7 linked regions of the Homo sapiens genome follow. The protein of the gene in region 5 interacts with the protein of the main gene of each other region in a pairwise test. Each region holds a gene or a part of one and is shown on either strand. Other genes may lie near its edges.

Region 1 (4,200 bases), on a different chromosome or scaffold from region 5:
TCCCAGCAAGCCCCACCTCCCCAGCCGGAGCCCAGCGCACCTGGACACGTCCGGGTCCTGCCGGAAGAGCAGCAGGATGTGCTGGGTGTTGAGGAAGAGCGCCCAGCAAGGGAGGCAGCAGAGGAGCAGGACCAGCGCGCCCCGCTGCAGGATCACGCCCACGTGCTTCTTGTTGGGGCTGCCGAAGCTCTGCAAAACAGCCCGCCCCGCGTCAGCCGTTTCCACTGCCCGGGACATTCCTAAATCCCGCGCGGGGAGCGGGCTGTCAGCGGCGCCAGCGGTGTGTGGCGGACCCGGCGGCCTCTGGTGACCACAGCCTGGCGCCCGCAGCCTGTAATGGCACAGCGGCCTTCCTGAGCCTGGGCCTACCACTGTCTCCACTGTTCTTCCAAAGCTCCAAGGAGGACGAAGGCACATGGGGCTTCATCACATGTCAGCGGCAGGTTAAGTGGAGCCAGGACAAAGCCCAGGTCCACCGTGAAGCTAAAACCCCCAGGGAGAGGTGAGGCCTTGCCGCTTTGTGACCCCATGGCCACCTGGGCAGCCCCTGCTGGACTGCAGGCCCCTGCAAGCAGGGAGGTTCCTTCTGTGTCCCCTTGGCCTTCGACACATGCCTGCATGTAGGCAGCCGAACTTAGGATTGAGGCTGGGGAACCGGTTGTCTTTCTCTACTTGGTGACCTCCTCTGGGGGCAAGAGATCAGAGAACTGTCTCCACCATCTCCACCCCTTTCTCCTGGCCCAGACTCTTTCAAAGGGGAGGGTCTGTTTCCCTGACAGCCTGTGGTCCTTGGAGGTAGGGCAGGGGCAGCTGACCCCAGGGCCCATTGCTCCCAGATCACCTGGCTGCGCCCCTCCCACCTGCCATCTCCATGGCACCTGTGGAATTGGCTCTGCCCTTGCCTGGCTTCCTGCCCAGCTCCAGGAGGCCACCCACCTGAGACATCAAGGTGTCACATGCCGAAGACAAACCAACTCCTACAGAAACTCCGCAGACATTGACAAACTGGCGCCACACACAGGAGGAAACAAGAGCTTGTCAGGTGAGGCCTGAAGAGAGGCCCCTGCATCTGGGCTGAGCCAGGGTCAGGAAATGCTGCCCAGCAGGCAGCGGTGGCAGAGGCTCTGCTCAGCAGCCTCATGTGCTGTGTGCCCCAGGGCCAGACCGCCTCCATCTCCGGCCCTCAGGTTCCACCTGTGAAGGCAGCTGTCCAGCCACGTGGGCTGTGTCTTCCCATCCCTGACCAGCCACCCAAGACGGGCCCACCCGGGAACCCGGTGGAGAAGCCTGGGGAGAGAACGTCCCTGCTCTGGGCCAAGCTGGGTACTCACGGCCACCGCGAGGGTCACCGATGCCAGCTCCACCTTGCCCAGGTGCCCGCAGAACACAGTGCTCACGATGTAGATCATAAAAGTCAGCACCTGGAACAGGAACTGGAGGACAGCGGCCAGGTCAGACTCGGGGCCACAGGTGCCCACACAGCCGAGCCCTGCAAGACAGGCCTCTCCAGCTTTGAGGGCCCCGCACCAGTGCCCCGAGAGGTCACCTACGCCTGGGGAAGCCAGGGCTGGAGGTCGGATGACCTAGCCCAGCTCCCATTCTGCGTTCTGCAGCTGCAGTCACGCCTGGCCTCCACGTCCCTACCCAGAAGGGTCAGTGCCTGGCGCAGCGCAGTGCCTGGCGCCCTGAGCTTGACCCAAGTGTCTGATACTGCTATTGCAGTTCCTATTATAACAATAATTTGGTCAGGCCGCACACCCCCAAAAAAGGAGGGGAATTAAATACACCAAAATCTTAGTAATGGCTATTTCCAAGTACTAGGATTTGAGTTAAATTTCTTTCTTCTTTATATCTTTCATTTTTTTCTAAAAGTTTTACAGGAAGTGCAATTCCATTACTCCTTTTTGGTTTTGTTTTTTTTGTTTTTTTTTTTTTTTTTGAGACGGAGTTTCGCCCTTGTTGCCCAGGCTGGAGTGCAGTGGCGCGATCTCGGCTCACTGCAACCTACCCGTCCCGGGTTCAAGCGATTCTCTGCCTCTCTCTCCCAAGTAGCTGGAATTACAGGCGCCCGCCACCATGCCTGGTTAATTTTTGTATTTTTAGTAGAGTCGGGGGGTTCTCCATGTTGGCCGGGCTGGTCTCCAACTCCTGACCTCAGGTGATCCTCCCTGCTCGGCCTCCCAAAGTGCTGAGATAACAGGCGTGAGGCAGCACGCCCAGCCTATTCCTCTTCATGATCAGAAAAAATAAATGTATTTAAAACAATTTCCCCTTTGGAAATGAAATGGGTAGCCGGCCCCTTCTTCCCCCTGCGAAGGTGCTGCAGGCTTCATGCATCTCTGGGTCCCATTTGTCCTGGAGCCATCTTCCAACTCAGGCTTTTGTGGGTTTCCAGCTGAGGCACACCCACCCCTTCTGTGTGGGGGCTGCCTGCTGCTGAGCAAAGTCAGGCCCCACTGCCACTGGGGATTGTCCAGAGACAGCTTTCAGGAGCCATCCTGCTGTCCCCAGACTCTGGACCTGGCAGTCAACATGGGCAGTTTCTGGGGAAAATGTGAGCACATTTCTGGATCCTGCCTGCAAGGCAGACACCCTCAGCCTCTCAGCTTCCTCCACTCCCTACCTGCCCCCCAGCTCCTCCTCCTTACCAGGGGTCCAGAAAGGGCAAAGAGAGTCCACATCTCAGTCCCAAAGCCTCTGGGAACCAGCCTGCTGAGGGCAGGGCAGCAGCCCCCATGGTCCAGGGCCACTGTGTCCTGGAGGCTGTCCATTCCTGGCCGGGGCACTGGCTACCCTGCACGCCTGAGCGCCTGCACGGCCAGCTTTGTCCAGCGAGCCACCCCCTGCCTGGGCAGCCCGTGTCGGTACAGCCTGGCTGATGAGTAAGGGGCAGGAGGAGGGGCTACCATGGCAACTTGTGGGATGAGCCCTGCCTCCTAGGGCACTGAGTCCCTGCTGCCAAGCCTACTGCCTCAGCCACTAGGGAGGACAGGTTCCTGGGAGTCACCCAGACCGCTGCCTGTTGTGTCTGGTCTCCCAGAGGGATTGGCAGTAAGGCCTCAGCAGGAGAAGGTCCAGGGCTGCCTGCAGTGGCTGTGGGAGGTGTGCTGAGGCCAGGACAGGGCAGCCTGGCTGGGGCAGCTGAGCCACTGGGCGTCCTGTACCCGGGCGTGATGGTGCCCACAGTGACTCCCGTTTTTCAGAAGAATTGGTGGCCTGCCCGAAGTCACAGAGCAGGTGGTGGCAGAGCCTGAACAGCCCTCAGCCCTGCTTTTCCCTGGGAGGGGTGGCTTCCCAAGAGACAGGGGCCTGGCAAACCCCATGGCAGTGCGGTCCCTAGCCTTTCATGCTGGAGGGGCCTGGGCCTGGGCCTGGGGATAGGGATGGGAGCTAGGACACCTCGGCGGAGTCCCAAGCCCCCCACTGCCCGTCACCCCTTTCAGCAGCATATCTGAGAGCCAGGGGTGGCAGTGCTTGGGAAAGCAGCTCACTATGCACGCCAGTCACTGTGCCCAGCAAGGCTGTGACTCGACGTCCCACAGGGTCCTCTGTCACCTTCCCAAATTGCCCTCTCTGCTTTTCCTTGCAGGGATGGCCTGTGACTCCCCCCTCAACCTGCCTCAAGACCAGCAGGGCAGTGGGAACCAAGAGAGGCATCTAAGGATTGCACCGGTCACCTAGCCCAGTCCTGGATCAAGCTTTTGGGTGTGGTTCAGCCCAGGAGAAGGAGGAGTGAGCGAGGGGGGCAGGAAGACAGCAGGCAGGCTGGCCAGTGGCTGTGGGAGGGCTGAAGACATCCCAAAGGCCCCACTTGGTTCCCATGTCCACCCCTGCAGCGGAGGAGTGGCCGGCAGGATTCCGAGATGCAGCCCCCAGAGCCGCGAGGAGGAAGGAGCAGACCCTGAAGGAGAGGAGGCAGGACAAATACAAAAAAAAAAAAAGGGTTTGCTACACCCATGGGCGGCCCCAAACACAGGCACAGCCCCACCCCAGTCAACACGCAGCCTTCTTTTTTGACACAGAATTCTGAAACGCTCCACTGGATCCTCCCAGGATCACCTGGGAGGTCACATTCCTGCCCTTGTTCTGATGGTTCTTATCACAGCACTCTCCAACCTGTGCACCAAATAGTACCTTTACCACCTGCCTAGAGGAAAGAAGACATTTTATCACCATCGTGATTGTGATGATGACACCAAA
Region 2 (3,500 bases), on a different chromosome or scaffold from region 5:
CAACAGAGCAAGACTGTCTCAAAAAAAAAAAAAAGTGAAACCATCATATGAAAGTAAATATATATGAAAACTTACAAAACTTGGGAGTGAGGGAAAACCTAAGTATCATACCAACAGCAGAAATCATCAAGATAAACCTGGATATACCTCACTGTATAAATTTCTATAACTTAAAAAGACATCGGAAACAAAACCAAAAGAAACACATCAAACCAGGGGGAAAGAATCTGCAGTAGTCAGAAAACACCAGAAACAAAACCAAAAGTAAAACTGAGGAAAAATCTCCACAGATACAGGAATCTCACTGTTGGCAAAAAGAGCTTTTAGAAATTAACAAAAGATGAATATCTCAAGAGGAAAAAAATGGGCAAAGGACATAAACAGGAATATCCTTACAGAATAGGAATGGTCATAAACAAAAAGTTTAACTCATTAGTAATTAAAAAAGTAACAAAGTCAGAAGAGAAGTGTTTTTCCTTTTAGCTTGGAAGATGAGCAGGCAGTTACTAATTCTGTGCCAGGTACCTGAACAGCAATTCAGTCACAGATGATCAGGTATAACTACAAAGATGGTCACCAATGCAGCTGTCTAACAAGGAAACTGGCTATATATATTATGATACAGTCATTTGGTTGAAAGCAACCATTAGAAATTACATAATATGTAAATATATAAGGTCTTGGAAAGGTATTTTTGACATATTAAGGAAGGTTGCTAAACAGTACGTAGAGTATCAAAGCTTAGCAAAAATAAAAGTAGTAGTATGGTGTCATATAAAACCACAGAAAGACTGACATTTAGATATTAACACTGCCTATCTGTGGGGTGGTTATAATTTTAGGTGATTTTCTTTTTTTGCTCATCTATAGTTTGATAATAAATATGCACTGTTTTTTAACAAGATAGAATAAAAACCTGTTGCTACTAGTCGAGTTTCCTTAACACTCTTCAGCTGTCAGATAAATCCAGATGTGTGCCAGCTGCCCTTTCCCTGTTGGGTGTGCAGTGTAGAAGGGAAAGCCTGCCGTGCCTTAGTAGGGAAGTGACCAAAGGCAAAGTTTCTTGGCTTTGTTTGCTTATCTGTGACATGGGGATGTATTATCCTCCAAATGCTCCTGAAATGGTGAAATACAATCATGTCTGTAAAGTATGGTTTCTGCCACAGCCATAATTGACAGACTATAGAGTTTAGGAAGGTGGTTGTGGAAGGCTGGAGATGTGTGAACTCTCAGTCCATGAAACAGACAGGAAGCACTAATCTATGTGTATAAAGAAAAGCATTTGTGAATATATACCCTCAGTTAGAAAGTAGGAGCCAAGCTTCAAGGAAAAATAATACAATCCTGTAATATTAAGGTCTTATTCTCTACTTTTAGCTTGAATTCTATTAATTCAAAGAATTCTTGAATAGCTTTAATAAAATAGTTTGAATTTGATTTGAATCAATGTGTGGGAACAGGTGGTCAGCAGATTTCTAGAACATCAAGATTTACAATCTTAAACTGAAGAGATCTGTGTACAGATAGAACACTGTTTACATCAGGGTATAGCACAGCACAATATACTGCCTTTACTACTCTACCTAAAGCAGCACGGTAAGATCATTTTATAATATGAAAACTACTGGGCAATTTACATGTACTTATCCTTTTATCCCAGACATCAAAAGCCTCAGAATCCACCTGGCCAATGTCTTAAACAAGTTTTACCAACTACTGAAGGTTCAGTGGGCTGATAGCCTTTCATGGGGCGCTGAATGCCTTACGGCACAACTTCTTCAAGAAACCTTTCAATGGTCTTTGAAGAAGTGTAAATTCCCGTCTCAGGTTTACACTTGACGTTTAGAACATGGGCACCGGCAGCATGCCGCAAACCTAAAGGGAATTCTTTCAGAAAAGAGAGACGAAGTTGTTTTTTTTTTTTTTTTTTTAAAAAAAGTCTAAAAAAAGACTTAAAAAAAAGTCTTGCTCTGTCACCCAGGCTGGAGTGCAGTGACTCGAGTGACTCGATCTCAGCTCACCGCAACCTCCGCCTCCCGGGATCAAGTGGTTCTCCTGCCGCAGCCTCCCAAGTAGCTGCGATTTTTAGTAGAAACGGGGTTTCACCATGTTGGCCAGGCTGGTCTTGAACTCCAGGACTCAGTGATCTGCCTGTTTCAGCCTCTCAAAAGTTTGCTGGGATTACAGGCAAAAGCCACGGTACCCAGCTGATGAAGGTATTCTTTTTATTTTTTGTTGAGACGGCGTCTCGCTCTTGTCCAGATTGGAGTGCAGTGGCACAATCTCGGCTCACTGCAACCTCCATCTCTTGGGTTCAAGCAATTCTCCTGTTTCAGCCTCTCAAGTAGCTAGGATTACAGGTGCCTGCCATCATGCCTGGCTAATTTTTTTTTTGTATTTTTAGTAGAGATAGGGTTTCACCACATTGGCCAGGCTGGTTTCGAACTCCTGACCTCAAGTGATCTGCTCGCCTCGGCCTCCCAAAGTGCTAGGATTACAGGTGTGAGCCACGGCGCCCGGCCGAAGATATTCTTAAGGCCTTATTTTTGTAAAGTGCCCACATCTTGTGCTACTTGAAAGGAATGGTAGTAACGCCTTCCATTTTCTCTCCCTTTCCCCTCTGCCACCATCCCAGCACCTTCGAAGGTGACCTCCAGAAATCAGTTCCTTTGATAGCTCCGAGATGGCATGTGCCGCTCAGTTCTGTAACCAGAGCCTCTGCAGCTGGCAGGCTGGTGGCCTCACTTCCGCTTAGTGCTCATCTTTTCTCACCTTCCAGAATGAAACTCTAGAGTTGGCCTGGTATGGCCTCCTCAGGAAAAGGTACTTCCACATGGGCACTAGCCAGCAACCTCATCCCCTCCCCGCGGCATAACTTTAAGGATGCGCAAAGCTTAGAGGCCTGTGATCTGCAGAACAGATTCTATAATTGGGATTGTTCCGTACTGGTTTGTCTTGAGACAGCAGGAGTGGCCAAGGGGGATCTCAGGGGTAGGTCACAAAGCCAACATATTTGGAAGAAAGATTCTCAGAGCTTGCTGCTGATAATGTCTTTTATGTGCAGAGATTAGTGAAGTCATTCAGTCCTTGTCCTCAAAATACATCCTGTGAACTTTACTCACTGACCTTCACTTGAACCACCCTCCCTTCTCCAGTCCTTTTGAAGTATCTAAGAATGTGTTGTATACATAATACAGCTACAACAAAGATGCCTCTAATTTACCAAGGCAGGCAATCACTTTCAGTGAAGGCACAGCCTGGTTCCTACCAAACCTCCTCTTCCTCCCCTTAACCTCCTCCCTTCCATCCACTCCCACCATTAGCCCAACAGAGTGCACGTGTAAGGAACTCACATTTGGTGAGCAAAGGGACTTCTGACTCCGAATAAGCCTAAATTCAATAGGTCACAGTTTAAGGCTTTTTCGGTGCCAGTTTATTTAAAGAACTAGTTATTTATTTATTTGTCAGATTTATATAGCGCCTTTCCTCCCACGAGCTCA
Region 3 (3,500 bases), on a different chromosome or scaffold from region 5:
AAAAGAAAAGAATGATGGCTGGACGCGGTGTCTCACGCCTGTAATCCCAGCACTTTGGGAGACCAAGGTAGGTGGATCACTTGAGGTCAGGAGTTCAAGGCCAACCTGGCCAACATAGTGAAACCTTGTCTCTACTAAAAAATAAAAAAATTAGCTGGGTGTGATCATGTGTGCCTTAGTCCCAGCTACTCAGGAGGCTGGCACATGAGAATCGCTTGAACCTGGGAGGTGAAGTTGCAGTGAGCCAAGGTTGCGCCACTGCCCTCCAGACTGGGTGACAGAGCGAGACGCTGTCTCAAAAAAAAACAAAAAACAAAAAAAAAAACCAGAATGACTGTGTCCACATTCTGCTTCTAGCTACCCAGACAGAAATAGAACAGAAATGTGCCCTCCACCCCAAAGCTGAGAAGGCCTGCTGGGGAGAAAGGAATGAGGGCAGCTGTCTTGGACTCAGCCGAAGAAGGCCCCAAAGAGAGATGTCCCTTTTACTTGTTCAATACTTGCTGATTCTGCACCCAGCCCCACGTTGGGCAGTGCTGGGGACATGGAAGTGATCTAGGCAGCCCCAGCCTTATTATCACAAGGCTCACAGTCCCATACAGGAGTCCCAATGAGGCCCCAGAATGGGCTGGGATGGGGAAGCCCAGCAGGTGTGAGAACCCAGAGAGGGTGCTTAACCAAGCCTGAGTGCTCTGTGAGTCAGGGAGGGCTTCCTGGAGGAGGTTGGATTTGAGCCTAGGGCTGCGAGAGTCCACAGCCGTAGAGCCTGAGTCTGAATCTCTCATGCGATGTGGCCTTGGGTAAATCACTTTCCTTCTCTCTCAGTTTCCTCACATGTTAAATGAGAATAATAACAGTTCCTGCTTCACAGGGTTGCCGGGAAATTTCCATGAGTCAGCCTAGCTTAGTACCCTGCACTTAGCTCAATCAACATTAACTAATATTATTTTGAAACGGGGCTGCCTGATAAACTGGTGATAGGCAAACATCCCCAAGGACAATTACTAATCTTTCACCAGTTTAAAGTGGAGGACTGCACAACCTTAGAGGTAGCTGGGAGGGTCCCAGGCCAATTCCACCCCTATCTACCTTTTTCAGGTAGGGGAAAGTGAAGCCCAGAGATCTCAGGGACTGGCTTGTGGTCACAGACCATGTGAGCCCAGGGAAGGGCCAAGCCTGGAGCCCAAACTCCACATGCTCTCAGCAAGGAGCGGACTGGAGGAAAAGGTCCTTCAGTGCCAGTCAAGCAGCCATGGGGCCAGAAACCGAGAGCTGCCCCCACCTGTGGGATATCGAGCTCAGCAAAGTGCTCGTAGCAGCCGTCTGAGTTCTCGCCGCTAGTCCAGTCGCCATACACAAGATCGTGCTGTTCCCAGAAGAGTGCCGACGTGGCGTTGAAGTCTGTAAAGTGCTCGTGCTCTGAGATGTACACATGCAGGTTCTGTTGGGACAGGAAGGGAACAGAGCTCAGGCCTGCTCTTCAGAGCCTCTGCAGGCTGGCTAAAGAGCTATGGCAGCGGTCAGCACACTCAGGGGAACAGTAATTATGGAGGACAGGGGAGAGGAGAGAGGAAGAGCAGCAGAGAGGACATATTTTCTCTTTTCTCATACCACCATGTTTGTCCTGGTCTGAGCCTGTGAAGTCAACGAACAAAGAACACTTGGAGACTGGCCAGCCTGCCAATTAGAATTTAGGGGTAGGAAGGGGCAGGAGCTCCCTGAATGATCTCCTGCCCTCATGGCTGCTGGGCCTTCCTGGTCAGAGCTCTGCAGGCTTATGGACGAAGCAGTCCAGAGCTACAAAAGCACTGTGAGCCACCGGGCACGGTGGCTCATGCCTGTGATCCCAGCACGTTGGGAGGCCAAGGCGGGTAGACCACTTGAGGTCAGGAGTTCGAGACCAGCGTACCAAAAAGGTAAAACCCCATCTCTACTAAAAATACAAAAAATTAGCTGGACGTGGTGGCACATGCCTGTAATCCCAGCTAGTCGTGAGGCTGAGGCAGGAGGATCACTGGAGCCCGGGAGGCAGAGGTTGCAGTGAGCTAAGATTATGCCACTGCACTCTAGCCTGGGCGACAGAGTGAGACTCCATCTCAAAAAAAAAAAAAAAAAAAACCCACTGTGACCCAACAAGAACTTCCTCCTTTCTCAAGCCCCAATGGCCATGTTTGCTCAGAAAAGCCTAGACTGACAGATCTAAATGCTTTTGCTCTGGAGGCTCCTGAAGCCCTGCCCTGCCTGTGCCCAAGCCCACTGTGGAAGTGCAGGTCTCCTCTCCTTCCGGGCCCACCTCCTGTCAGCCTCTGCTGGCTCCCTGCCCTCCCCACCTCTCACACTCTCTCCCTTGCACATCTCCCTCTGCAACCCTGAAAGGCTGAACATACTTTTGAAATATAACATCCAAAGACCCTGATTTAACCTATTTTAACCAAATGAATTTGCTTTTTCTTTTGGGTGACACAGGTTTTATGTGCTGGGGATGGACCCAGGTGACAGAGGTCTCACGTGTTGGGGATGGGCCCAGAGTTCCTCAACCCTGGACCTGTTTTCCTAGACCTGCCAGTGAGCAAGGACCTGGTCTGTCCCGACTGCTGACATCACTCCTCCACATTCCACCCCTCCACACCCCATCACCTCCCAAGTCTGCCCTACCACCCGGCAGTTACCATTAAAGTGTCTTTGGGGAACAGGTTGCGGCTGGCGACGCGTGGAGCTCCTCCGGGGCCCGCCTGGTCCTGAGGGGCCGGCCCTCGGCGGAACCAACTGCTGATGGCCCAGATGATGAAGATCCTGAGGAGAGAAGCAGCAAGGTGGTGAGTCCCCAAGCCTTGGCTCTCCGCCATAGACCCGCCTGACTTCCTTCTGACTTAGCACATGCTGGCGCCTGACCTGGGGCTAGTGACCAAGTCAGGGAGGCCCTGAGAAGGTAGTCACAGGGCTGGCAAGGAGATAAGATGTCCCTAAAGACCACATCTGGGGAGGGAGCCCAGATGCCACCGTTTGCCAGTGTGTGGGGGTAGCTGGCACTGCCCTGGTCTGCATGCAGACCCTTGACTCTAAATCCTGCAGGAGCTCCTGGTGACCACAGGGCTGCAGGGGCTGACTCTTGACTCAGACTGGGAAACCTGCCATCCAGCCCCCTGGGATCCCCCGAGAGGAGACTAAGAATCTGGAACCCCTTCAGTGTGCAGATGGATGAATTAAAAGAAAAAAGAAATAAAGAAAAAATAATAAACATAAAATTTTTAAAAGAAAGAATCTGGAATCCTAGCGCTTCAAAAGCACAGAACCGGGGATGGTTAATGGCTACAAAAAATAGAATGAACGAGGACGGGCGCGGCGGCTCATGCCTGTAATCCCAGCACTTTGGGAGGCCAAGGCGGGCGGATCACGAGGTCAGGAGATTGAGACCATCCTGGCTAACATGGTGAAACCCTGTCTCTACTAAAAAATACAAAAAAATTAGCTGGGCATGGTGGCGGGCGCCTGTAGTCCCA
Region 4 (3,253 bases), on a different chromosome or scaffold from region 5:
TTGGCCAGGCTGGTCTCGAACTCCTGACCTCAGGTGATCTACCCACCTCGGCCTCCTAAAGTGCTGGGATTACAGGCGTGAGCCACTGAGCCCAGCCAAGGTTCTGTGGTTTTAAAGCTGCCGCTCTGGACAATCTGTCCAGATGCAACCCAGGCATTCCTTCCTTCTGTGTACCTTTTAGGAAGCAGATTTTGGCTCAAAATAAGAAAGACCCTTCTACCAGAACGGCCCACAAACGGACAGGCTTCCACAGAAAGGGGTGAGCCCCTGTTCCGGAGGAGACTCTGGGATTGCTTCTAACTCCGGGATCCTGAGAGCCTCCGTAAAGGGTTTATTGAGCAGGAGAACCAATTTAACCCTGTCCACATGAAAATAAACATGGAGATTTACTTCAAACTCAGCAGCTCTGGTGAGAAGGCTCTCACACAGGTCCGGGTTTGACCCACACAGACTCCACGACCATCTGAGGCAACCAGCACACGGCAGACGAGGGAAACAACTCAGGTGTCACAATTGCTTTTATTTTTATCTCCAGTCAGTCACAGACCCCAGGAAGGTGAGGTCAGGGAAGGGAACAGGTGCGGACACTGGGGAACTTGCAGGAGCTAAGGCCAGTGGACAGCAGGAGTGTCGGGGGTGTGGCAGCTGGCCTGGGTCCCTGGAGCTGTGTCTGCCCTCAGGGACTCAGGAGAACGGCTCAGGGAGGGCTTGGGAGGGGGTACACTGTGTCCGAGAGATGCAACCATCGTTCGGCAAAAGAAAACAGCGGTGGCTGATGAGAAGACAGGTCTGGGGAGGTCTGAGGAGAGCTCGGGCCAGATCCTGCCCCCAACCTCCAGCCACATGGGCCCTCGGTGACTCTCCCAAACCAGGCCCTGCGTTTCCTCAAGCAGCCACTGGAGGGCAGCAAAGTGCTTATGCAAAAATCCCACCCCGCCCAGGAGAGCAGCCAGGACACCTGGGACTTGGCTTCAGGTGGGCCAGGGAAGGAGGCAAGGAGCCTTTTGGAAAATGGGTGTCTGTCCCATCCTGACTCCCTCGGAAGGAAGAGTAGGGAATGGAAGAACTAAGATTCCGGGGCTTCCCCAGGTGATACCGAAGGAGCCATAGGTGTGCCCGGGAATGAGTCCCAGACTCGTGTGTGCCTCCCGGGCCCCCATCTGCAGCTTCCAGAAGAGGACTTCAGTGGGAGACCCCTCAACTCACATTCCGGACAGTCAGATTCCTGGCTGCCTCCAGCTTTACAAAATCCAGCCCACCCCTTCCTGGGCCCAGCCCCACCCAGGCCAAAAATGTGAAGGGCCTGCAGACTCCCTTCCTCCTTTACAGCTTGTGACACCTGCTCAGCTGCGGTTTCCTTAATCTTGCATTCCTGTTCCCCTGCCCTTCCTACTTCTGACGCCTCTCCTGGTGTTTCAGGATTCCTCACTGCCTGGATTGGAGATGGAACGCATAGACTTTGGCCCTGACCCTGCTGCCTACACTGTGGTACCTGCCACCCCCCCTCAGGACCCAGAGTAGGAGGCTGCGGCATCTTCTGCCCGGCTTCCCCAGCTCTGCAAAGAAGCCATTTCTCAAATGGCTGTGATGCGTGTGTGACACTGTTTATTGCCGAGGACCTGTCCCTCCTCCCCCAAGCTTTTGGCACTCAGCCCTGAATAAGCTTCTAAATCCCCAGTTTCTGCAGTAACTTATCCCAGGGAGAGGAGAACTTGGACAAGTAGATTCTAGGAAGCATGACCAAGGCTATCTGACAGTGGCAGGAGAGTGGGGTGCTGGGGCTAACCCTCTGGAACTGAGGCCAGAGATGAGGAGAGGAAACTGAGGGGCCCGGAGGAGAGGAGGTGGAGGAGGGTGGGAACCGGGTGAGAAAGTCAGTGGAGAGAAATGTTCTGGTGCCTCTCCCGCCCTATCCTGGCTATGAACTTCCATGTGGCAGATGGAAAAACTGAATTCCAGACAGCAAGAAACCCTCACCTAATAGCAGGAGCCCGCTGGCAGTGAGGCTAGGAACCAGAAACCAGAAATCTTGCCTCCCAGCTCTTGTCTGGAAGATAGAAACCTCAGAGTGCAAAATCTGGCGAGGGGTTTCAGGAAAGACGGGAGGCCGGGTGGCACTGAGGACAAGAAATCCCCAGGACATCAGGGCCTGACCACCCACCTCTCTGCGCTCTCATGTGGTCTCATTCCGGCCCCCACCCAGGCCCAGGGGCAAGCGTGATACCCTGTTTGCTTGAGGCAGCTGTGGGTCTGAACCCCAGGCCCGCCACTCGCTAGCCGTATGACCTGGGACTCATTACCGAGCCTTTCTGAGCACCTCGGCTTTTCCCTCTGCTACGGACATGAGCAGAGCGCTGTCTCTGGAGGATCACTGCGATGGATTAATTTAGACCAGCACACAGTGGGCATCTCACCCGTGCCCCCAATGCCTTTGCTGCACACACACCACCCGCCAGTTCTTGGCTCCTTTTCTCTTCAAATATCCAAGATGGAACAAAACTTCAAATGCTTCTGCAATGTTTCTTGAAAGCTGGGAGTAGGAAGGGTGGGGAGGGATGGGGCTGGGAAGGAACAGCACACCTCGTCTCCCTTCCCAAGGCAGACGGAGCTCCCAGCACAGGGGAGAGAGAAGAGGAGGAGGGCGAAGCCAAGGGAGGGTCCTGCTAGCCACTCAGAGCCTTCCTGTATCCACACAGTAACTTTCCACTGGCCTGGAGTTGGCCACTGCACATGCTGGCTGCACGCTCCCCCAGTGTGGCCTCCTGGTTCCCTCCCCACAGGCGCCCCTCTGGGGGTTGGAGGGCTGACGCACACCCTGCCTGAGATCCCAGCCGCCTGGAAGCTGATAAGGAGCCCTGGCCTCATTACATGGGACCAGCTGGAGGGACTGGCCCTGGCTGTTAGCATCAGCTGGATGGCTTCCAAATTGGAGAGATGCAGAGATAAGTGGGGGAGCACTTAGGGACTCTGGGCTGAGTGAGTGGCCAGTGAAGCTAGAAGAGATGTGGACTGTGCCAACTATGAAGACCTCAGGAGGCCTGGCTGGGGACGAGCCAGCAAACAGCAGCTGACAGGAAGGGTTTAGGAAATAAGAGGTGCAGAAGGGACTCCCACACAGCCTCGGGTTAGGGCTGAGGCAGAGCAGGGACTCCTTCCAGATGGGGCTGGCCTGGCAGCTACAGCGATTGCCTCCTCCCCCAGAACATCCAGCCGGAGGGCCCAATCACACCTCACTCAGCCTTAGGCCTGTGGC
Region 5 (3,500 bases):
CCTCTCAAAATGTCTCCAAGCCTCCCAAGATTCACTTGGTTATTGTATTGTAAGTAATGCAAACAAGAAACACATTCAGCTGGCATCTGAATCTCTGAAGTGAGTGAATCATGATGAATACAACTGATTAATAAAATTACCATTCGTTTGGCATTTTATATTTGCAAAGACAGGCCTAGTTAACCAGAATAATCCTTGTTGATTTTTCCAGTGCTCTTTCAGCCAGGATTTTCCAGTGTGTTGACTTTCAGTCTTCTTTGATTATCGTTTTATGGCTATTTCAAGACCACAATTAGCACACCATTATTGTGTGGAAAAGAAAGAGAAAGAAGTTAAAATGAAAAACTATTAGGTTTTCTTTCCACTAGCCACTCATACTAAAGGTTAGTGAGGGAAGAATATGAAATTACTTTCAAGAATAAAATTAGAATTGTCTTTGAGTTTACTTTAAATATTGAAATGTAGTTATAATCCTTTATCTTTCCTGCAGGAAGGTGTCAGGCAGGAACAAGGGTCAATAAAGTACTATTTGTTAAATAGTACTTAGAGAAACATGAAGTTGTCAAAGTTGTTTGAACCAGAGTGACTCTGTCTTGGACAGGGGCTGGGTAAAATGGGGCTGAGACCTACTGGGCTGCATTCCCAGGAGGTTAGGCATTCTTAGTCACAGGATGATAGGAGGTCAGCAAAAGACACAGGGTCACAAAGACCTTGGTGATAAAACAGGAAGTGGTAAAGAAGCTGGCCCAAACCCACCAAAACCAAGATGGCGATGGAAGTGACCTCTGGTCATCCTCACTACTCATTATACACTAATTATAATGCATTAGCATGTTAAAAGACACTCCCACCAGCACCATGACAGTTTACAGATGCCAGATGCCATGGTGATGTCCGGAAGTCACCCTATATAGTCTGAAAAGGGGAGGAACCCTCAGTTCCAGGAACTGCCCATCCCTTTCCTGGAAAACTCACGAATAATCCACTCCTTGTTTAGCATATAATCCAGAAGTAACTATAGGTTACTCAACTGAGCAGCCCATGCTGCTGTTCTGCCTATGGAGTAGCCATTCTTTATTCCTTTACTTTCTTAATAAACTTGCTTTCCTTTTACTCTATGGATTGACCTCGAATTCTTTCTTGTGCAAGATCCAAGAACCCCCTCTTGGGGTCTGGGTCAGGACCTCTTTCCAGTAACGAAGTAACCATCTGCTATCCAGAAATGTCCTGCTGACCCATTAGTCACCCACTGTCCACCTAAGGGAGTGGCCAAGATTGAGTGGTCTCTAACTTCCTCCATGGCAGGAAGGAGGACAGAGGGTTTGATGGGTACCTCCTCATGATGAAAAGAGGGTTCTGAGGACAGTTTCCTTAGCCAGTGTTGGGGGAGAAAGAAATAGGGGTCACATATGTCTCAGGAGTAGCACCAGCTACTCTGTGGCCAAGTTATCTCAGGATAAAGAGCTTGTGCTCTGTCAACTTTGGCCATCTTATTGCTATTAAACTGGATCATGGAGGAATTCATTGCATCTGTTTTGCAGGTAAGTTCCATCAGTGGTTTGGAACTTTTGCTGGCAGATCTAGAGTGGTGGAAAATTTTCCCCCTCACAAATTCCGTGAGAAGAAGGGGAAGAAAAGGAATGAGCAGGGTAGCTGTGTGGGGCATTGGGCAGCCTTAGGAGTGAAGTGGTGGGAGCTTCCCCTGATAACGGAAATGAGTGACTGAGGAAAATGTCCCAGTCAGTCGAGGTTTATTAAGTCAGCTTTAGGGCATGTCCCTGAAAAGCAATGAGCCACAGACACATCTGTGGCTGTTTTTACAAAGAGGCTTTCAGGAGGTTGGTATTTATACATTTCCTTAAAGTAGGGAGGCAGGTAGGGAGAGGGGCAGGTAGGCCGTAGAGGAATGTTTCCATCCTTGTGAGACTTTAACTAGTGCCCAGTTAAATTTACATTTTACATATGATAAGGTGAATGTTTAAAGAGAAAATGGGAGTAAAGAAAAGAATCAATTATGCAGGCCTCTCTGAGTAGGTGGAGGAATGACTGATCTTGTCTTTATTCTGTACATTGGGAAATAAGCTTGCAATCAACATTATCAGTGTGGAATCAGCAGACTTTAGTTTTAGAAGCTAAGCTTAGATTGTAGACCTAAAATTCTTGTCTACAGGAGGCCAGCAAAGAATTTACTTATGAATGACCTGCAGGGGTGGTCCTTTGTAGATAACTGAGGCATGATGTATAATGCTTGTAACAGCTATTCATCTGGAAGAGGGTGTTGCATGACTCAACCTCCAGGCTTAGTCTTCCCTTTTGCATAAGGATTCTGGGGGTCCTGAGATTTTTAAATTTCCTTTCCCTTTACACCCTCATGTACATCTGAGAGTGAAATCTCTTCTTCTTCTCTTCCCCTAAATTGAGTGCTATATGCCCATGGGAAAAAGCATCACATATTCAATTAAAAGCAGCTCAGAATGGGTGTCAAAGGAGCCTGAAATGGGTGCATTGAGGTGTTCCAGTTAACCAGAGAAGGCTCAGTGCTGGTGTGTTCCTGCTGGCAGTAGCAGAAGGGAAGTGCTATGTGACGCTCCTGAAATCTAATTGCTCCAGGTGCATCAACACAGGTGCTCCATTATGCTGATGCATTTTCTTAATGTGGGTCTTTATTTCCTCTGGGTTTTGAAATTGCCTTTTGCAAAATTTTAACCCCCTTCTTTGAAGTAAGAAGTAAAAGGGCTTGTGTTTTACCACCTCTGGGCATGGAGGAGTTAACTCTTTGACAGAGACCTCAGGAAGGGTGGAAATCAGCAGAGAGAGAGTTAGGGGCCTGCTGCTGGGAAACTTTCTTCCTTCTCATTCTTCTCTTCAACATTCTGCCTCTATGGCAGGAGTCCCATACTTGAGTATTAGTAGTGATGATAATATTATGAATACTGAACTAGTATTATTGATTAGTATTACTAATACTAATAATATTACTAATTACTAGGCACATCCAGGAAGAACGCAAGCCACAGACACATCATTACTACTATGAGTAGTAATTAGTAGTTACTAATAGGCATGACACCTGTTTTGAATGAAGTAGAAGAGAAGTGAAGGTCTCTAGAAAAATAAGTTTTCACTTAAAGACATCTGTGAAGATTTCTTACCGAAAACCATCAGCGGGAGCTCAAGCCAGATGTTAGTGAGCCGGTAGACCAGGAATGGCGTGATGATGCCACCAATGTCACACATTGAGGAACAGATGTGGACGCCAAGATTCCTAGAATGCAGGAAACTGATTTAACTTGTTAACTTATCACAGTGCAGTAGTTATCTCCCATCCACCCCTGAATAAACACTTCCTCAAATAATTAAAATGTTCAAGAGCTATAGTGTACACTGCTCAGGTGACGGGTGCACCAAAATCTCAGAAATCACCACTGAAGAACTTATTCATACAACCATATACCACCTGTTTCCCAGAAACCTATTGAAATAAAAAAAAAACACCAAAA
Region 6 (3,500 bases), on a different chromosome or scaffold from region 5:
TGGAGCTTCAATTCAGGTCAACCCACTGTGCTGCAGAAGAAATTCTGGGTTTGTGAACCTTGGGAATTTTAACAGATTTTCAATACAAATCATGAACCCCTTTTCAAAAACATAAAAAGTAGGTCCTTTCACTCAGAGAAGGATCCTGACAGTTACAACCATTCCTTGGAAACACAACAGAAACCATTCCCTAGAAGCTATCTCTGCTCATGTGCCAGAATAAACACTGTCCCCACAAATCCTCAATCTCCTGTGACTTGTAAGGTGAAAGGCAGCAAAAAGGTTTAGATTCACAGTGTCAATCTCAGTCACCCCTAAAGATTTAGTCAGCAACGTACCTTAAAAATGATGAATAAGGCAAAGAACACAAGAACAATGAACAGGAGGCAGCTGGAGTCCAAGGCCAGGAGGTCATCTTTGTAGGGAAAATCAGGCTATTAAAGAAACACACACACATTTACAAGTCAGCCATCGCACTAGCACTTGCTGATAACCTGAAGAGCATCTGAAGAATACAAAGGCACCAAAGTCAAAAGTGATATTTAATAAAAATGTATAAGCAGAATTTAATTCAAAGTGCTTTTAAATTTTAAGCCTTATCACCATTAATGCATGCTAACAATCACTTAGAGTACATTTGATAACCCACAATGCTCCAAAAAGTCTAAATTTAGCTCGTTTTCTCTTTACTTTTCACTATTTTCCATCTTTCTGGCCTTTGGAAAAACACTATCGCCTATATGGCACTGGAGATCAGTCCCTGTGTCACTTGCATCATTAACTCAGGAGATGCTCAGTTCTGTGTAAGTTCTACAGATAAACTGGGCCATTTTAATGCTACAAGGGGAAAATTATTTTTCTAAATGTCAATCGTTTGTCTCAACTCTCATCAGACAGGGGCAAAAATACACCCACTGGTTACAATGTCAGGCAAGACATAAGTTTTACTGCAGACATACTCTGTTCTACTGAAAAGCATCAGCTATATTCATTTAAATACTTAATCAGCCCTGACTGTGTACAAGGCAATGAGCTAAGTTCAGGGAGAAAGGTGTTATAAAAGAAGAATTTCAGATTTAAAAACTAACCAACAGAGGAAATACCTTCCAGTCTGAGGCACTAAGTGAACAAAACAGAGGAGAGAAAACACCAGGGTCTCTAAAAGGAATAATAAATTTTTATCTTCTTTTCTATAAAGCTGATTTAATTTTTTTAAGTTATGCTTGTTTTTAATGGAAATGTCAACAAGAAGGCCTAATTACATTTTCATTTAAAAAGCAACATAAACAGAAATCCCAAAGGACTGAAAAAAATAGAAAAAAAAAATTTTAAGAACACACTACTCCCCAAACCCCAGCCAGGTTGTCTCCTTGGGAAAAAAGCTGTTTTTTTGATCTTCATCTATAAACAAAAAGAAAAACACAGAAGGTGGAGCTCATGAGGGAATGCTATGCTAAGGGTTTTACTCAGAAGGCAGGGAGGCACCACTTGAAATTTCTCCCCCGGAGATGACATGAGCAGAGAGCCACACAGAAGCCGCTGACCGTGGCTGACCAGGCCAACAGCCCTGCCCCTGGCCACCTTTCTCCAGGCTTCCCCACCCTCCCTCTGTGTGCCAGCCACCATGGCCAGCTTCTAGTGCCCTCACTATGCTGCTTCTTGCCTCAAGGTCTCTCTTTTATCTGGAACATTGTCTTCTATACTTTCTCTATCTTAATTCCTGTTCAAACTCCTGAGTACAATTCAAATCTCACTTCCCAGCCCAGGTTTAGTACCCATGTGATATCCACTCCCACAGTAACCTACAATGGTGTATCAGTTAACTGTCAACTTCCTGATTCCTTCACCAGGAAGTAAGCTCCACTGATGCATCTCTATGACCTAGCAGAGTGCCTTGCACATAAGAGCAACCAGCGAATGTTTTCTGAATAAATGAATGATGAATTTGGTGGTGTGGAAAATGGGCTAGGCAGGAAATCTGGTAGTGGGAAGAAAAGTTCTGAAAGACAGCACTTTGGAAATGAACTGAGGATACTCCTGCCAATTTTCATCTACCTAGATCCCATATCTCCTTCTGACCACCTCCACGACGCCCTCCTTGGCCACCCAGCCCAGAGTTTTCCCTGCCCCCCTCCATATGACATTAATCGAAGTTCCTTATTTGCTGCTGCTGTGACAGCTCCCGCTTGTTATCACAGGTAACATCTTCATGTATCTTGACTCCCCAAATATTACAGTTTGCTCGCTAAACTGTAATATTCGCAGTTATCTTTATATCCACACCATTCACCAACAGTGCCTAGCAAAGGGCTAAAAACATAGTAGGCACTGGAATACTTGCTACAGATGTCTGTAAAGACAATAAGCTAGTCACTTAAAGAGTGCCATACACAGTCAAATTACTGTACCTTTGGATGCTCAAAAACAAAAGCTGAACTACTAGTTCCATAATATCCATTTCTAGGAACTCTTAATACTGCATTATCCAAATGGATGGTAAGAAATTACTCTACTTTCATCTTGCCAGTTTTGTCACAGTAGCTAAGAGAGCAGAAATAATTATTTTAAGACACTTTCAAAAGCAAGCGGAGTAGTTAAAAATAATACCTAAGGCTGATTCAGAATTTAAATGTAAACATTTTACTCAAAATGAAAAAAAAATAAGTTTAATGAGCATACACACTTACTAGTTGATCCAGATATTCTTTGATTCTTGGCAAATAGGTGAGAGAACTAATAGCAACCAGGCAACTGAGGACGAAGTCAAAAAGTCGGTAACAGAAGAATGGAATCAGCCAACCCACTTGATACTGGAGAAAAAATAACAACCATAACATTGTATCACATATAGGAAATTACTAAGCTCCCCTAAGGTCAAACTCTAAAAGATGAAAATACAGTATACTTACAGAAATTGCTCCATAAACCAGCATTGAACTGATTATAAACATAAGAACAGAGACGGCAAAAAGAACACAGGCATTATCTAAGAAAACAAAAACAAAAATCTAATTAAGCTACTTACACAACAAAAAGAACAAAACTTCACTTAAAGCTAGCTTTAAAATATTAAATTTAAATATTTTCAAAATTGGCTATAAAAAGATCTAAGGCCAAGAGGGTAAAAAAAAAAAAAAAAAATCAAAGTCTCAGCATGAAGTAAGGAACCTTGAGACATTCACACAAAGCACTTATTTGTTAAATCGCTCCAACGACTCACTGACATGGGTGTAGGATGGCACATGAACCACATTCTCTGCTAGAGAAACAGGTCCCTGTGCCCTTATGAGCCCAGGAATCTGAAGATGTGCAAACAGATCATTATAATCCAATGTGTCAAGTGCTACAACAGAGGCAGAAACAATTTGCTTTGCCTGAAGCATCAGGAAAAAATATGAAGAAATGACACAAGATGGGTCTTATGAGTAGGGTTTAGCTGGAAGGAATGGCTGGCAATTGCTTAAAAGACAAGTGTATTAAACTCAGAATGCTACATACAT
Region 7 (2,884 bases), on a different chromosome or scaffold from region 5:
AGAGCCAGCTCAGTCAGTGTTACTGTCTCTTCTGGGCTCCCTGACTTGTATTTAGAGCGCAATACCAAGTTGCAGATCCAACTGCTGGATGACAAAGTTTTGGGAGTTCCTGCCCTCCAACCGGACGCACAAAACAGCATCATCTCTAATCAAATTGGTTCAGTGTAAATGGAGGGTTTATAAAATAGAACGCAATCTCAGGCAAAGTCTCTGTTCTTCCACGTATCTGCCTTCATCAAGTGACTCATGAGACAATCACAGGATCGGCAGGAGTGAGACCTAGGAAAGATATTCAAGTAAAACATGTTTCTTAACTAGTTCTGTTTCTGGTGATTGGAATTTGCTTGATTTTACTTACTAATAAAATTTTTGCTGCTTATATTTTAAGTACATCTGAAAAACCTGATTATGAAGTTAGAATCCGTATTATCTCCTCGAATACTCTTAGAAAGCAATGTCTCTCTATAAAAACATGAGGAGAAAAAGACTTCTACAGCATCTTTTTATTGTCTTTACCATTACTTTAATGCATTTTAAAATTTATCTACATTAATTGGGAACAAAGAAAAATAGACATTTCTTTGTTTTTCATAAATAACTAATCTTCATATTTGATAAAAATCTCAAATGATTATTTTACCTTCCCACAAATATAATACATACAAAATTTTTCTGAAGTAAGGTCAACAAATTAAGTATCTTGAGACTAACATAACCACATACAACTGCTGTTTCTACTGACTCCCAGGAACGAAGCAGAAACAAAAACTCATCAAGCTGCTCTGGGTTTCCTTTTGTAAGTGTTACAGATTCAGAACTGTAATCATGTATCATCTGCCAGTAATAACATATGGATTCAAATTGATTGTCTACAAATAAAGTATCGCTGGCTCTAGTGTAACTTCTGGATTTAACATAACAGTGACTACAGCATGGGATAGGCACTATACATATATGGAAATCATAAACAGTATCGAATGCCCTGGACTTCAACTACTGACTCGGTATGTGCCTCATTTGGCTCAGTAATAAATTCACCTGCACCAAACCCGTATCAAAAGTCACCAAATCTCTCATATATATATATAATATATATTATGTATATATACAACCCACAAAACATACATACTATACATAGTTTGTAACAACATGAAGTCATACTGTCTTAAAATGATGCACTCACAGACAGACACTATCCTGGCTGAAATAAATCCTATTGTCATCAGGCTGCTAGCTTTTGAGAGTCTTGACTCAGGTTAGCTACTTATATTCTGCCTACTCTTCACCCTTCTTTAACGTCTTGGCAGTTCTTTCAGAACCACCCTCCGCAATCCAGACAGATTTGTTTCCCAGGATCACTTGATTGGACTTTGGAAACAAGAAAGAGCATGCAGAGGGAGCAGGCAATTCTTAGCCACTGTCCCTCACACCTGCCTATACGTGTGATGTGCTCTGTCCTGTTGGCCACATTTAGTGTTAGAAAGCAGTTATTCAAAGCTCTGTCCCTCCTACCCCCCTTGGGCTTTCTGTAGAGCACAAAAGTGAAAGAAGCTTCTTTGGCTGGGGTAGCAGTTCATTAAAATATACAACTACATTTCCTAGCTCTGGGGTTCCCATTCTGTACTGGAGAGTGCAGGTCACGGATGCTGTTATTAAGGTTTGGTGTGTGATCCATGAGGTTTTCTCCTGGCAGCCGGTGTCAGGATTAGCGCAGCTCCAGCCCAGGAGGCAACAGCCTAATGAATACCAACTTTGAAACAGTGCTGTCGGCACGTTATTTAAGCTTGTACATGCCCACAATTACACACAACACACACATGGGCCTTGGTCACTGGCAATGGTCATGAGAAAATATGAGAAAGGTTTGCAAGGAAAACCAATAAGGCACCAAGAAAAATTATTTCCAGTCAATTTTACCATTTCAAAATGTGAGAAGGAAAATCATAGAAATTAAAAAGATTTCCTAAAATCTGGTCAGCTAATTCACTGAGAGGTCCCATTAGTTCCTTTAGACAACCTACCTGAATGGAATCCTTACCCCCTAAGCTATGAAGTGAGGCATTGCTTAAAATCAAACTGAAAGGGACAGCCCTGAAGCTGTACACATAAGAGACTCCAATGGGCCCTAAGTCCTCCCCAGCTCCACAAAGCTGGCTGTGAAGAAGTTGCTGAACTACTCCATAACCTTTTATTTTACAGTTGCTTTCATGAGCATGACTTGTTTCCATAATCACATGCAAATTGGGGGAAGTAACTATATGGATGGAAACAGGGGGTGGCTGTAAGTAGATCCAGTTTCTCTCCCCTGGGGTGGCTGATCTCAGTAAGACTTAGGGATGCAGGTGGGCTTTTATCTTTGTCTCTCTTAGGGGATGAGGGAAGAGAGGGACAGCAGAGGTGAGAACAGAGACAAAGAAGTGCTTCTGAAAGTTGGTCTGGAATTAGACCCCAAAGATCCTGACTAATATTGCCCCCCACTTGGGCTTAGCGTCCTTTGTTTTAACTGGCTTATTTTTAAAGTAAATTAGTTGTTCAGCATGTTGCTAAAACAAAACAAAAAAAAATTCTAAAAATGAATTAAATCACTTTCATCCACTTCATCCCACAACTTTTGGATACACTGTGCATCATTTCCAGATTTCTCCACAAAGAAGGAGGGACAACCCAAATGAGGCACAATGACTGAAGGCAGCAGAGCAGTCTGTCTACTTTCTGGGAAGACATATGAAATGAGGGAAAAGGTCAAGGTGATCAGAAAAGGTTCTCTCATTTGAAAAACAGGAGAGGAATTGGCATTCAGTCAAGGGATCTATTTCAAGATTCTAGGAAGAGGCTTCTTCCTAGAAGAATAAATAGAGGAATAAAATAGGCACAAAGTTCTGTA

The links.
Region 1: the proteins of SLC22A2 (region 5) and SLC47A2 interact in a protein complementation assay, tested with the Homo sapiens proteins (one large-scale study listed by BioGRID).
Region 2: the proteins of SLC22A2 (region 5) and ETV5 interact in a two-hybrid assay, tested with the Homo sapiens proteins (one large-scale study listed by BioGRID and IntAct).
Region 3: the proteins of SLC22A2 (region 5) and CLPTM1 interact in a protein complementation assay, tested with the Homo sapiens proteins (one large-scale study listed by BioGRID).
Region 4: the proteins of SLC22A2 (region 5) and FAIM2 interact in a protein complementation assay, tested with the Homo sapiens proteins (one large-scale study listed by BioGRID).
Region 6: the proteins of SLC22A2 (region 5) and LAPTM4A interact in a protein complementation assay, tested with the Homo sapiens proteins (one large-scale study listed by BioGRID).
Region 7: the proteins of SLC22A2 (region 5) and FZD5 interact in a protein complementation assay, tested with the Homo sapiens proteins (one large-scale study listed by BioGRID).

Annotation. Positions count from the first base shown.
Region 1 is NC_000017.11:19,713,785-19,717,984, forward strand, and holds the start of SLC47A2 (multidrug and toxin extrusion protein 2), read right to left. Parts: upstream 2,801-4,200; 5' UTR 2,772-2,800; coding exon 2,649-2,771; intron 1,452-2,648; exon of another isoform or gene 1,434-1,451; coding exon 1,332-1,433; exon of another isoform or gene 1,006-1,331; coding exon 937-1,005; exon of another isoform or gene 562-936; intron 190-561; coding exon 41-189; intron 1-40. UniProt on the Homo sapiens protein: Multidrug efflux pump that functions as a H(+)/organic cation antiporter.
Region 2 is NC_000003.12:186,067,590-186,071,089, forward strand, and holds part of ETV5 (ETS translocation variant 5), read right to left. Parts: intron 1-3,500. UniProt on the Homo sapiens protein: Binds to DNA sequences containing the consensus nucleotide core sequence 5'-GGAA.-3'.
Region 3 is NC_000019.10:44,972,380-44,975,879, reverse strand, and holds part of CLPTM1 (putative lipid scramblase CLPTM1), read right to left. Parts: intron 2,794-3,500; coding exon 2,670-2,793; intron 1,442-2,669; coding exon 1,283-1,441; intron 1-1,282. UniProt on the Homo sapiens protein: Involved in GABAergic but not glutamatergic transmission. Binds and traps GABAA receptors in the endoplasmic reticulum (ER).
Region 4 is NC_000012.12:49,866,396-49,869,648, forward strand, and holds the end of FAIM2 (protein lifeguard 2), read right to left. Parts: 3' UTR 501-3,253; downstream 1-500. UniProt on the Homo sapiens protein: Antiapoptotic protein which protects cells uniquely from Fas-induced apoptosis. Regulates Fas-mediated apoptosis in neurons by interfering with caspase-8 activation.
Region 5 is NC_000006.12:160,238,322-160,241,821, forward strand, and holds part of SLC22A2 (solute carrier family 22 member 2), read right to left. Parts: intron 3,266-3,500; coding exon 3,153-3,265; intron 1-3,152. UniProt on the Homo sapiens protein: Electrogenic voltage-dependent transporter that mediates the transport of a variety of organic cations such as endogenous bioactive amines, cationic drugs and xenobiotics. Functions as a Na(+)-independent, bidirectional uniporter.
Region 6 is NC_000002.12:20,034,629-20,038,128, forward strand, and holds part of LAPTM4A (lysosomal-associated transmembrane protein 4A), read right to left. Parts: intron 2,987-3,500; coding exon 2,910-2,986; intron 2,811-2,909; coding exon 2,688-2,810; intron 435-2,687; coding exon 339-434; intron 1-338. UniProt on the Homo sapiens protein: May function in the transport of nucleosides and/or nucleoside derivatives between the cytosol and the lumen of an intracellular membrane-bound compartment.
Region 7 is NC_000002.12:207,762,098-207,764,981, forward strand, and holds the end of FZD5 (frizzled-5 precursor), read right to left. Parts: 3' UTR 501-2,884; downstream 1-500. UniProt on the Homo sapiens protein: Receptor for Wnt proteins. Functions in the canonical Wnt/beta-catenin signaling pathway. In vitro activates WNT2, WNT10B, WNT5A, but not WNT2B or WNT4 signaling. In neurons, activation by WNT7A promotes formation of synapses.